2 separate regions of the Homo sapiens genome follow, and region 2 is linked to region 1. The links come from fine-mapping of genetic effects on gene expression. Tissue or cell type: caudate. Region 1 holds a variant in brackets; the other region holds the start of a gene. All regions are shown on one strand. Distances are from middle to middle.

Region 1 (2,687 bases):
GTCAGATTGCTTTATCATGGTGTCATTTAACTTACTCCTCTACCCTGTATATTCCCTGTAACCTGGAAGTTCATTTAAACAGTTTCATTAGATATGGGTTAAACATTTTTGGCAAGAATACAAAGGTGGCACTATGACGTCATGTTGTATGTATCACATCAGGAAGCTCATAATGTTTGGTTGTCTGACTATAAATGATGCAAGTTCGATTATTAGTTAAGGTCGTGTTGTGAGTTGAACTGTGTCCCCCCAAAAGATAAACTGAATTCCAAACCCCTGGTACCGGTGAATGTGACTTTATTTGAAAATAGTGGTTTTTGCAGATATAATCAAGCTAAGATGAAATCATACTGGATTAGGGTGGGCCTAATCCCATACTGTCCTTACAAGAGAGAAATTTGGACACCAAGACACAGAGACGTTCAGGGTGGATGCCAAGTGATGACAGAGGCAGAGGCTGGTGATGTGTCTATAAGGCCAAGAATGCCAAGCATCGCTGGCAACCACCAGAAGCCAAGAAAGAGGCATGGAACTGATTCTTCTTCAGAGCTCCCAGAAGGAACCAACCCTGCTGACACAATGATTCAGACCTCTGGCCTCCAGAACGGAGAGAATACTTTTCTATTGTTTTAATCCTATTGTTTATTCTATTGTTTAAATTATTGTAATAATTTGCTACAGCAGCCCCAGGAAATAAGTTCAGGTGGTGACATCAGATCTTTCTAACACAAAGGGAAGAAGGGCCGGGCACGGTGGCTCACACCTGTAATCCCAGCACTTTGGGAGGCTGAGGTGGGCGGATCACCTGAGGTCAGGAGTTCAAGACCAGCCTGACCAACATGGTGAAACCCCGTCTTTACTAAAAACACAAAAATTAGCCGGGTGTGGTGGCGCATGCCTGTAATCCCAGCTACTCGGGAGGCTGAGGCAGTAGAATCGCTTGAACCAGGGAGGCAGAGGTTGCAGTGAGCCGAGATCACGCGACTGCACTCCAGCCTGGGTGACAGAGCAAGACTCCATCTCAAAAAAATAAATAAATAAAAGGGAAGAGGTTTATAGTAATATTCCATTGTGGTTTAATTTGCATTTCCCTATGACTAGTAATGTTGAGCATTGAACATCTTTGTGTGAATTTATTTGCCATGTGTTTCTCTTCTTTGGTGAAGAATGTTTTCCCATTTTTGTTTAAGTTGTTGGTTTTCTTAATATTGAGTTTTAAAAGGTTTTTTAAAAAATATTCTAAACATACATCTTTTATCAGTTAT[T/C]TAACTTGCAAATATTCTTCTTCCAGTTTGTGGCTTGTCTTTTTGTTCTCTCAAAAGTGCCTTTCAAAGAACAGGAGTTATGGCTGGGTATGGTGGCTCACACCTGTAATCCTAGCACTTTGGGAGGCCGAGATGGGTCGATCGTTTGAGGTCAGGAGTTCTAGACCAGCCTGGCCAACATGGTGAAACCCCGTCTCTACTAAAAACACAAAAATTAGCTGGGCATGGTGGCAGGCGCTTATAATCCCAGCTACTTGCAAGGCGGAGGCTCGAGAATCACTTGGACCCGGTGGCAGAGTGAGACTCTGACTCAAAAAAAAGAGAACAGAAACAAGATCACAATATTTTCCCCTGTGTTTTATTTTTAAAGTTTTATAGTTTTAGGTCTATGATCGCTTTTGAGTTTATTTTTATATGGTGCCAAGTATAGATAAAAGGTTCATTTTTCTGTATATGGATAAACAAATGTTCATGCACTGTTTGTTAAAACAGAAACTACCCTTTCTCCAGTGAATTGCCTTTGCACCACTGTCAAAAATCAATCGGCCATATATGAGAAGGTCTATTTCTGTACTGTATTATGTTTCATTGTTCTGTTTTTCTTTCTTGATGCCAATTTCACACTGTCTTGATTAATGCCAGTTTCTAAGTCTTAAAGTCAAGTAGTGTAAATCCAACTTTATTCTTCTTTTACAAACTGGTTTTAGCTATTACAAGTCCTTTGCACTTCTATGTTAATTTTAGAATCAGCTTATACATTTCCACCAAAAAAGACTGCTGGGATTTTGATTGGAATTGCATTGAATCTACAGATCAATTTGGAAAGGAATGATACTTTGTAATATTGAGTCTTGCTATCCATGAACACATTATATCTCTCCTTTTATTTAGATCTTCTTTAATTTCTATCAGTAATTTTCATTGTGATATCTCATACATCTTTTGTCAGATTTAGCTCTTAAGTATTTTATGTATCTCATGCTGTTGTAAATGGTTTTGCTTCATTTCAATTTTCTATTATTCCTTGCTAGTATAAGGAAATAAATTGATGTTTGTGCCAGGCGTGGTGGCTCACACCTGTAATCCCAGCACTTTGGGAGGCCGAGGCGGGCAGATCATGAGGTCAGGAGATCAAGACCATCCTGGCTAACACAGTGAAACCCGGTCTCTACTAAAAATGCAAAAAATTATCCGGACATGGTGGCGGGCACCTGTAGTCCCAGCTACTCGGGAGGCTGAGGCAGGAGAATGGCGTGAACCTGGGAGGTAGAGCTTGCAGTGAGCCAAAATCCTGCCACTGCACTGCAGCCTGGGTGACAGAGCGAGACTCCATCTGAAAATAAATAAATAAATAAATAAATAAATAAATAAATAAATAAAATGAATTGATGTTTTTATTGTGATCTTGTATCTTACAATCTT
Region 2 (2,687 bases), 890 kb after region 1:
TGAAGTTTCATGATGTTGGCCAGGCTGGTCTTGAACTCCTGACCTCAGATGTTCTGCCCACCTCAGCCTCCCAAAGTGCTGGGATTACAGGCGTGAGGCACTGCACTCGGGTTCCAGCTCCTTCTTTAAGTGAGGGCAATATTCTCAGCCAGAGGTTTGGGGTCTCATGCCCACTGTCCTGCATGGGCTCTGTTCAGGGTGGACTGCCTGACTGGTCTGGCCTCAGGATCCCAAACCTTTTTTCGGCAAAAGGCTCTGGTTCCTGAGAAGGCCACTCAGTCCTGGCACCAAAGTGACATCAGTCCCTCCCTACACTACAGGCAAATGTAGGTGTCCCTAGTGATTACACCCCACTGGTCTGCCTCAGACATATCCAGTGGGTGTCATCCTGATCCCCCACACATGACCCCCACTCCATGGCTATGGCTGATTGAACAGGGGCAAACTCTTGATTCAAGCAAAGCCAGTCGGAGCTGATATCTGGTAGAAGCCTCATTGTTCCATCCCCCAGCAGGGAAGAAAGGGGAAAGATATGAACAGGAATAGGGATCAGCATCCAGAGAGAACAAGGACAAGTCAGCTTCTTGAGAGAACTTCAGGTCCTGTGGGACACGATAACACTATATTCCCACAGGAGTCATCTGGTGGCTTACATGAGCTCCCTGTGTGTTTCTGTTACTTGCTAGCCACAAAGTCCCTGCAAACAGAAACTTTAGATCCACTGCCTCCTTTACTCCTCCTCTCTATAGCGCTGTGAAGCAAATGTCCTGCATCATCCCCATTTCACACACGCGAAAAGAGGTTAGAACATTTCAGGACGGTGGTGAGGCACGGACTGCTCAGTGTGGAACTCCGTCCCACGCCCTCTCTGGGTCCTGCTAGCCCTGGCCCAGCAGCGGGATGTGGATAAGTCCCAGAAGAGTGTCGGGACACTGGGTTGGGGTCTACTTCAATAGGTGACCTTCGGGGCGGTTGTTAAGAGCCCCGCTACTCCTCCGGGTCCCGCAGTCGCTGACCACACAAGCCCTGTGTCGGGATCTGTCGAGACCCTCGTTCCCTCGCCAACCCCGGGGCGCCCCGATTCTGCAGCCACTCCCTTCTTGCGCCCCAGCTTTTCCACACAGCCGGGTCAGGACCCATTCTTCCGGGCTGAATTCTGTTCTCTCTCCATGCCTCCTCCCACGTGCTTCCCTCCTCCCGGAAGCCCCTTCTCCGCCCTATTCCCAGCCGCCTCCCAGTTAGCCCCCAACACCCTCCCGGCACCTCCTCCAGCTTCTTGGCGTTCCCCGTTACAAACACGATCTTCTTCCCCACCAATGAGGCCGCCATGGTGATCCCCGGTTACCCAGCTGAGCCACCGAAAACTCCTTGGCGTCCAGTGACAGAAAACTTCCGGCTGGTGGCGGAAGTGAACGGCTCAGTTTCCGGCCAGGGGTCCCGGGGAAAGCCGACCCGGACCCCAAGGCGCGTATCGGGCGAGTGGGCTCGCGGTGGCGGCCTAGCCCACAGCGTCCGATTTGCTGGGGGCCTCCCGAGCCTGGAGACTGAGTGACCCACCCCTCCTGCCTAAGGGACGCTATCTTCAAGAACCGGAAGAGACCACTCCCACCCCCACCCCGCCCCTGCTTTCGCTCTTCTCTGCAATGGGGTCTCCGAAAGGAGAAGACTGCAGCCCTGTGACCCTGGAGGTTTGCGCTCTCCTATGCTGTCTCAAAAAACTGCCTCCTTCTAGGCAAGGGCTTCCAAACCCTCATCCTGATCTCACCTTCAGCCTTACCCGCCAGCTATGATCCACTCGACTGTGAACTTAAACTCGGCATAGCCTAAAACAAGCCCAAACTTCTCACCCGTTTTCACTCCTAGGCTTGAGAGCTCAGTATGTAGAGTTCCTCACTTCCTCATCCCTCCAGCCTCTCAAATCTATCACCCCTTCTCCGTGGCCACCGTTTCAGCCAGATCTTTGCATTCCAAACACAACAGAAAGTAGGAAGTGCCCTCTCAAAGGTGGGTCTGCTGAACCTCTGCTGATACTCTCTTTGCAGCAAGTCATCTGACCTCCCTCCTCCAGAGACTCAGCCCTCTGCCCCCCGCCTGGACCCCTGTGTCAGTACCTCTTGAATGGCCACTTCTGCCCATGGACAAGAAAGGGAGGGAGTCTGAGTTCTTACCAAGCTCCTCAGGCCATTCTGATGCTCATCAAAGTGTGGGAAAGCCCGGTGGCTCACGCCTGTAATCCCAGCACTTTGGGAGGCTGAGGCGAGTGGATCACCCGAGGTCAGGAGTTTGAAACCAGCCTGACCAACATGGAGAAACCCCATCTCTACCAAAAAGTACAAAATTAGCTGGGCATGGTGGTGCATGCCTGTAATCCCAGTTCAGAGAATTCAGGATTCAGGAGAATCGCCTGAATTCGGGAGGTGGGGGTTGCAGTGAGCGGAGATCGTGCCATCGGACTCCAGCCTGGGCAACAAGAGCAAAACTGCGTCTGAAAAAGAAAAAAAATGTGTGGGAACCACTGCTTTGGGTGGTGACCTGTTTTCTTTTATTGAAGTAGAAACACTAACCATTATGCAGAGTCCCTAGAGGAGTGGCCATGGGGATTTGGGGGCAGAGGAGGGCTTGGGGGACATCAGTTACCCCGAGGAGCCTGAAAAGAAGAAAAACAGCCCACCTTACATGGATGCCTT

What was found. PIP is the estimated chance that this variant, and not a neighbour inherited with it, causes the effect.
Region 2: it holds the start of ITPA, and the variant in region 1 is fine-mapped to the expression of ITPA in caudate (GTEx, PIP 0.98).

The regions. Positions count from the first base shown.
Region 1 is chr20:4,097,917-4,100,603 of GRCh38, reverse strand. No RefSeq gene overlaps it. Among named protein-coding and RNA genes, the nearest start is that of SMOX, 50 kb to the left of the region's middle. The variant T/C (reference allele first, on the strand shown) is at 1,266.
Region 2 is chr20:3,208,194-3,210,880 of GRCh38, reverse strand. ITPA (inosine triphosphatase) reads right to left here and starts at 1,383. Exons shown (of 8, transcript NM_033453.4): 1 at 1,264-1,383. The coding sequence starts at 1,329. RefSeq lists enhancers at 1,188-1,257, 1,140-1,788.